Linked DNA regions of Homo sapiens: region 1 is linked to region 2. The links come from fine-mapping of genetic effects on gene expression. Tissue or cell type: whole blood. Region 2 holds a variant in brackets; the other region holds the start of a gene. All regions are shown on one strand. Distances are from middle to middle.

Region 1 (4,166 bases), 320 kb after region 2:
CTTTCTCTGCGGTGACTTTCACCAAGCCGAAGTGGCGCGCGCGCGGGCAGGCGGGAGCCGGGACCTGGCCCGCGCGGCGCCGCGCACCCGGATCCCGAGGCTACGCCGGCGAGCGCGGCGCGGGGGGCGGGGAGCGGGACAGCGGGACCGCCCGGGCCAAGCGATTGTTTCAAAGACATTTTTTATCAAGACCCTTTTGTATTCGAGCCCTACCTCTTTTTGGCCTAGGAAAGCTTTCGTGCAAGTGGAAGACGACTTTCTCCACAAAGTGCTGTATGTTACTGTGCTCCGGACCGCGTACGAACACCATCCAGTCGTGGGTGAAGCCCTCCACGGTGGGTTTTTTCCTCACCTGGGCGCGGTGCCCCAGCTCCAGCTTCACCTGCACGGCACACTGCGGGCAGGGGGAGGAGAGACAGCCGTGAATAACAGGAAGGCGAGGTTTCGGCAGTGAACGTTGCGCCTGACATTTTTTTCCTCCTTCTTGAAACGCACATAAAAGGAAACGGCGGTGCCCTCTGCATCCACGTTTCACGCGCGTGGGCGCGCACACTCCACACCCCCAAATATACCCGCCCGCCCGGCCCGGCTTGGCCCCAGGCGCCCCGGGCCCCGCATCTACATCGGACAGGATTGTAACGGAATGTTATCCCCAGTCGGGAAGGGGGTCGGGGAAAAGAGGGAGAACACACTCAGCCACGACAAGCACGACAACAAATGCATCGGAAACAAATCAGAAGGCGATGCCGGGGCGGTTTCCCGGCGTGGGAGGGGAGGTGGCTGGGACCCAGGGGGACCGAAGGGCTCCTGGCGAGCCCCCTCCCCGAAAGTACCGCGGCGACAGGCACACGCCGAGGAAGTCTTTGTGTACGTGTGTGTGCGTGCGTGTGGAGCGCTGTGCCAGGCGAAATGGAAACTACAGGCAGCCTCTGCTGATGGGCACAAACTCCCGTGCTCTTGCCACGGGGTTCGTGCACAACAAAAATGAGACGTCGTCATACACACTGAAACACACACACACGCCCGCAGGAAAACACGCCGAGGCATCCATAACTTAGAGCACCCCGCACCCCCCAGCGAAAAGCCCCACGCGATCGGCGAGGCCAGTCGAACCGAGCCCCCGCAACACACTTTCAAGAGCCCAAGTGGCTCCAAAGTATCTCCCACCTCCCCCCAAAAAATGAAATTCAGAAAGGCAGGGCGGCGGGCGGACAGCCGCCGAGCCTCGGCTCGCGCTCAGCACCTCCCGGCGCTGGGGCAAAGTTGCGTGCGGCCCCGCCGCTGTCAGCCCCGCACACTTCGGCTCACACACGCGCGCCGCGGAGAACGCACCATCGTAGCGGCCGCGGCGCTTTGCGGAGGTGCGGCCGCCGAGGCTGCTCGCCGCGTCCCCGGACTGTGCCCGCAGCTCCCGGCGGCGGCGGCTGAAATATGGCTGAGTTATTATTCGCCTCCTTCCACCGTGTGTGTGTGTGTGTGTGAGTGCGCGCGTGTGAGCGAGAGGGAGTGTGTGAGTGCGCTTCTTGTGACTGCAAAGAGGCGAGGAGGGAGGGAGGCGCGGGGGGTGGAGGGGCGAGTGTGAGCGTGTGTGAGTGTGTGTGTGTCTGTGTGTCTGTGTGCGCGCCGGGGGGGGGTGGGGGAGGAGGGGAGCGGAGGCTGAGGGAGAGGCGGCAGCTCCCTGCAAGCCGTACCAACCTTTCTCTAATTGGAACCGCGGAGCGCTGGCGCTGTCTGGGCTGCGGCGGCGCAGGGCGAGGAAGGAAAGTGGGGGAGGGCTTTTATTATTATTTTTGCGCGTACTTACCGAGCTAGCCATGCCTGGGGGCCCGGAGGTTTGCTGGGGTGTTGTGTGGTACCCCCCCCTCCTCCGCCCCCCCTCAGCTGTAATTCATGAAGAGGCTGCTATGAATGAGAGCGCGCCCAGGAGCGGAGGGTAGATGGCGGACATTCTCTGCCTTTTTCCCCCCGCGCTCGCTTGCTCGCTCGCTCGCTTATTAAACTCAGCCCCAAAAGCAAAAGCAGCAGCAGCAGCAGCAGCTCCAGGGTAAAGAAGATGATTGCGGAGCATGCGCCGTGGCGCCTGACACCCGGGCTCCGAGCCTCACAGGGCGGAGGGAGGGCTTGCGGGCGGGGCGGAGCGCGCGGGGAGGCAGAGCGAGCGAGCCAGGGGGAGCTCGAAAGAGCCAATCACCTGCCACCTCCCGAAACCCCGGCGGCCCGCAGCGCCACACTGGAAAGCCTCGCTTAAAGTAACAGGTTCCTGCTGGGGGGGTGGCAGGGAGGGGACGCAGGAGTGGGGAGAGCGGCCAGCTGGGGAGCCATCCCAGCCCCTGTGTAAACTCTGCTCGCCCTACAATAAAAAACGGATTAAAACTGCTGGAATGTAGCCACTGCTTAGAGCCCTCAGCAGCCGGAGAGGGGGTGTTAAATCAAGTCCTTAGCTAGTACGCACGGGGAGGAGGGAGTGGGCTTTCTTTTACTTTCCACCACGTATTTCTGTGGTTTTGTGCTGAAAAGACAAGAACTCACACCCAAACAAACTTACTTAAAGAGAGCGAGAGAAATGCCATCCTGCAAAAAACGAGCATGAAAATAGCAATGACTGAGGCTGTTCTAACCCGCAACGATCCCCTGGCCCCCTGCCCCATCCACTCACAGGCACCCGCCCGCCACCCTCACTCCCCGCCCTTCTGCCACCGCCACCGAAAATTTGAAAATGAAATGAACAAGGGAGAAACAAGGATGCTATTTCCTTGCAAGGGAACGCCTTCCGCTTTGGTAATCCCCGGCTGGGAAGCTTCATAAAGCGGTGCCCAGGTGAAAGCAAGACACCTGGGAGTGCCGGGTACAGACCCTCGGGGACCAGGCTTGGAGTTGTTTTCTTCGGGGGGCTTCCCCTCCTGACAGCCTACTGAGTTGCATCAGAACGTGGAGGATTGTCCTCTGAGGACGCGCGGGGCAACCGGGAGTCTTAAAATAGCAGATAAAGTTAATACTGACTGTAATGTGCGTAAATTGGATTATAATCTTTAGGCGTATTGGTGACAACCAGCGTAATCCATCTCTGAGTATTAATCCGGTTAGACTCCCGGGTGACAGCCAGTCGCAGGAGTGTTCCCAGAGTCGCGCCTCTGCAAATGTTCTCACTCGCGTTGTATTTGATCTCAGTGGCCGGAGATAGAACAGCGCGGCCACGCGTGGGGCGCGGAGAGGAGTATCAACTACTGGCTTCCTTTACAGACGCAGATAACCTTTAAAAAGGAAACGGATAAGATCTAGACGATTGATTTGAAAGTGAAAGATGGATGTGACTTTGGTTCGTTAAAAAAAGATCCTTGCATCTTCCTAGCCCTTAGACCTCTTTTGCCTTCTCTTTACTCCCCTTTTTCCCTCGCCTTCCAACTTCTTGCTGAACCTTGATTTTTCCTTCTCTTCTCCTTGCCTTTCCTCTTTGTCCCTCTTTCTTTCCTCTTTGTCCCTTTCTTTCCTCTTTGTCCCTTTCTTTCCTCTTTGTCCCTCTTCCTCTTTCTGACTGAACTTCCTTGCTTTCCTCTTTTCCCTTTACTTCCCTTTTCCACAAAAGCAAGTTGTCTCGGCCCTTGAATTGAGAAGAGCAGAATAGCGGGGAGGACGTTACCTAGGGCGTCCTGTGTCCTCGCTGTTAATTTTCAGTTCTCCCAGCAGCTCTCACAAAGATCCTGGGAATCAGGTCGGACCACTTGGAACCAACCTTAGTTTCCAAACCAGCAGCCTTCCAACTCAACTTTTGATTCCCTAAAACTGATATTCCGCTGCCTGTCAGTTATAATCAAGAAACTTCTTTGGCTTGAGGTCCCCAGTTCTTCCCAGCCTTCTACAGGATTTAGCATAGAATGGAGCAAACGACTGAAGGTAGAAACATTTTAATCTAAATCCAAGGGCTTAGATTTGTCAACTGACACACATATACATAACTGCATATCATCCTGTAGGTATATGCGTCGCTGTGTCTGTATGTATGTACAAGGACTACGTTTATATTCGCAGAGACAAGCTGTGTGGGTAGTATCTACGTGAAGGGGGGACCTATTTATTGTGCATTATTAAACTTTTCATAAAATAATCAAATTTGAGAGCAGTCCTTTGTAATAATAGTATTGGAAACTAAAGGTTATCTGGACGTGCCA
Region 2 (4,351 bases):
GAGTGCAGCAGAGCTATCTCGGCTCACTGTACCTCCACCTTCCAGGTTCAAGCGATTCTCCTGCCTTGGCCTCCCAAGTAGCCAGGATTACAGGCACGCGCCACCATGCCCAGCTAATTTTTATATTTTTAGTAGAGACGGGGTTTCATCACGTTGGCCTGGCTGGTCTTGAACTCCTGACCTCAGGTGATCGGCCTGCCTCGGCCTCCCAAAGTGCTGGGATTACAGGCGTGAGCCACCGCACCCGGTCCAGAAAGACTAATTTTCATACACACTAAAGTGAGAGAGCTTAGATTTAAAACTAGATACGTTCTTCCTAATATACAATGTTCTATCTCAAATCATCATGTTTCCAATGATTTCTATTAGCAGCCATAATAGTAATAGCAGCAGCCTGTGGGCTAAACACTACACTAAGTGCTTTGTATGTACTAAGTCATTTAATCTTTCCAAACAGCACTGAGGAAGATACAACTACTATCTTCATTTTAGAAATGAGGATCTGAGGCAAGAGAGTTGAGCAGCAGGAGAGAGGTAAAAAGGTAGTGAGTTATCCCCTATGCTCTTCATTTCCTTTGCCCTTCTCCTTACTAGAGCCCACTCAGCTAGTTGGGGCAGACTGAGGCTCATATGACTCTAAGTTCTTAATAGCTCATCTACAGACCTGTGCTGAACAGGGAGGATCCTAGAGGACATGCGGCCATGGAGGGTCTGAGAGATGGTTTGGGGGTCGGGATGTATATACAACAGTCCCATAGAGTCATTCCCCAAATAAAGCAGAGAAGGACAATTTGAGGTCTTGAGATAAATAAGCAAGAATGGCTAGATGGGAAAGCTTGGAGGCTTCTGAAGATTCATAGAGAGGGAGCAGGAGCAGGCAGGGCAGGCCCATTAAAGGAATAATAAAAATTAGCCCTTTCGTGCACACAGCCCTGGGTCCCAGGTCACAAAGGATCTTCACAGATGTGAATACCTATTTTATTTAGGGATTCAAAGGTTCCATGTATGAGGCAACATAGCATGTGGGAAAGGAGCTTGGGGACATGAAGAAGGATAGAGCTCTCGAGCAGGTGGGAATACACTAAGGGTGGTCCCAAGAAGGGCTGTTCATGCCAAGAAGTGGATTGACAGGCTCTGGAATGAAGTGAATCCAGGAAGAAGCCAAAGCAGCATCAATCATTTCCTGCCATGCTTGTGATGCCCATCGAACATGATCACTCCCTTGAGGGGGCTCCAATGTCTCATTTGGGAGTGACTCTACCCCAGTTTGTTACTTTGGCTATCATTAGCCAGGAAGGGGAGGTTCCTTATGAATCCATTGGACTGCTGATTCCTGAAGACCCAGAGTGATCCATGAAGGACTCAAGGACAATCCTCTCCCTATTCCTTACCCCCACTACTAGGACCAAATTCAGGTTTAACTTGCCTTCCCTGGTCACCTACTAGGCACTATGCTAAATGCAATTCTAATTTTGGAGACAAAGAAACTCGTTCAGGGAGAAACTTGCTCGATGTCACAGATATCCATAAGTGGCAGAGCCAGGATCCAAACTTGGACCTCTTATTCCAAGTGCATTGCTCTTTTCACTACATCATGCTGCCTTCTAGAAAAATCAGCTAACTCTGTGCTTCTAGACTCTACACAGTATTCAATAACTCTGATGACTTTGAATTCAGGAAATGTCTATCAATTGGACCAGGATCTGCTTTTTAAGCTTATCTTTATTTCTAGTACTTCCTGAGAAAGAGTAAAGTATTCTGAAATATAGAAGATGGATAGGTAGAAAAATGCATATGTAAATACACAGATGATGGTTGGATAGATGGGCAGACAGACTTTTTTAAAATTTTTATGGATACATAGTAGGTATATATGTATTTATGGGGTACATGAAGTGTTTTGATACAGGCATGCCATGTATGGTAATTACATCTTGGAAAATGGGGTATCTATCCCCTTGAGCATTTATCCTTTGTGTTAAAAACAATCCAATTATATCTTTTAGTTATTGGACAGACTTTGAGTTTATTGGACAGACTTTAATTGAGCTCCTCCATCAAACTTTGTGACTTTGAAAAATAGTCACTTAGGTTTTGTTTGTTTGTTTTCTATAAAATGGCCTTGTCAAAGCCCTTCTCATGGAACTATTGTGAGAAACTACCTCTAACAGTGCCTGGTATACCCATAGACTCTTACTATTCTCCCCTTTGTGTTAAAATCATGCTTCAGAATTATGTCCAAATTCTGCAGCAAGGACCCAATTCAAATATTGTTTGAAACATCCAGAATGTCTGTTTTTGACATCAAGTTGGCCCATAGATTTGACAGCCTGGTACCCATAGAGTCCCCACCCAAGAACATTTCCTTCAAAACAAGCTCCTGTTACAGAAAC[G/A]GCCCTGGTTTTAAATATACTCCCTTCTCTCATAAAAATGCCCCAGCCAGCTAAAGTCATTCTATTTAAAATATTTAATTAATACCTTCACAGAGGTCTGGAACTTATTAAAGACTCTTGGGGACCATGTCTTAGGGGCAATGCTTTGTTCTAAGCAGCTCTATGTGTTACAGATAATATAAAGTGCTGGAATGTGCTTTCTATTAAAAGCAGGGACATTTGCCTGCCTGCTGTTGCAAACCCTTTTGTCATCATCGTGACACATTAAGGCATAATCCAAGTACAACATACACACACAAACAGTGTCAATCCATCCATTGAGTAAAAAGAGTCCCAGGAAAACCACAAGAAAGGTCTGGTGATTAGATGAGGGGATTAAAAACTGGAGGAGCTCTTCCTCTACCTCTTCTCCCACCTGAAGAGGCCACAAAGGCACATTGCTCCCCAAGCAAACAAGAGCAAAAACACAAAGGCACACACTTTGCTCTACCTCCAGTATCTTCTTGGCTTCTCAGCCTTTGGCAGGTGAAAGAAACATTGGTTAAAAGTCCTACCTTCCAAGCAAGTAAACATGCTCTTAGTCCCCCTTTGTCTCACAGGCTGAAGACTGGCAATTGCTTCACATCCATTGTTGTCTGGGGAGTACATTTTTTTTTCTTATTATAAAAATGGTATAGGTTCAATCTTGAAAACCTTGGAAAAAATGTAAAAGAAAATAATTATTTTAACCATAACCCTACCACCTAGACATGACTTTGCTGCATTTCTCCCCTTCTATGTGTATACTTTCACAAAGCTGTCATTACCACACATTTACCCTTTTATTTCCAGCTTCTTTTCCCTTAAAGACATTGGGGGAAATGCTCAGGGTATCATAGTAAGAGATGAAGACTTTAAAAGAAATTAAAGCCTTTTTTTTTTTTCAAGCAGTTTTAGGTTTACAGCAAAATTGAGAGGAAGGTACAGAGATTTCCAATATACTCCATGCACCCCCACATGCAGAGCCTCCTCCATTATCAACATCCCCCACCAGCGTGGTACATTTGTTACAACTGTCAGCCAATGTTGACACATCATAATCACTCAAAGTCCATGGTTTACATTAGGGTTCACTCTTGGTGTTGTACATTCTGTGGGTCAGAACAAATGTATTAATGACAGGTATCCACTATTATAGTATCATTCAGAGTACTTTCACTGCCCTAAAACCCCTCTGTACTCTGCCTATTCACCTCTCCCTCCTCGCTAAACCCTGGCAACCATTGGTCTTTTTACTGTCTTCACAGTTTTGCCTTTTCCGGAATGTCATAGAGTTGGAATCATACACTATATAGACTTTACAACTCACTTCTTTCACTTAGTAATATGCATTTAAGTTTCCTCATGGCTTGACAGCTCATTTACTTTTAACGCTGAATAATATTCCATTGCATGGACATACCACCGTTTATTTATCTATTCACCTATGGAAAGATATCCTGTTTCCAAGTTTTTGGCAATTCTGAATAAAGCTGCTATTAACATCTGTGTGTAGGTTTTTGTACAATTTTCAGCTCCTTTGGGTAGCTACCAAGGAGCTCAGTTGCTGGGCTGTATGGTAAGCATATTTTTAGTTTTGTAAGAAACTGGCAAACCGTCTTCCCAAATGGCCATACTGTTATATTTTGCACCCACACCAGCAATCAATGAGAGCTCCTGTTGCTTCCCATCCTTGTCAGCATTTAGTGTTGTCAGTGTTCTGGGCTTTGGTCATTCTAATAGGTATGTAATGGTATCTCATTGTTTTGATTTGCATTTCCCTAATGACAGTGATGTGGAACTTCTTTTCATATGCTTATTTGCCATCTGTATATCTTATGTGGTGAGGTGTCTGTTGAGATCTTTGGCTTATTTTCTAATCAGGTTATTTTCATATTTTGGTGTTGAGTTTTTTTTATACTTTTCTTTTGGATAGCAGT

The links. PIP is the estimated chance that this variant, and not a neighbour inherited with it, causes the effect.
Region 1: it holds the start of MLLT3, and the variant in region 2 is fine-mapped to the expression of MLLT3 in whole blood (TOPMed, PIP above 0.99).

The regions. Positions count from the first base shown.
Region 1 is chr9:20,620,441-20,624,606 of GRCh38, forward strand. MLLT3 (MLLT3 super elongation complex subunit) reads right to left here and starts at 2,059. Exons shown (of 11, transcript NM_004529.4): 1 at 1,805-2,059; 2 at 214-394. The coding sequence starts at 1,816. RefSeq lists silencers at 8-127, 1,348-1,397, 1,468-1,617, 2,038-2,497, 2,518-2,657 and an enhancer at 288-417.
Region 2 is chr9:20,298,279-20,302,629 of GRCh38, forward strand. It overlaps a transcript of SLC24A2 not described here. Among named protein-coding and RNA genes, the nearest start is that of MIR4473, 110 kb to the right of the region's middle. RefSeq lists an enhancer at 3,789-4,351. The variant G/A (reference allele first, on the strand shown) is at 2,394.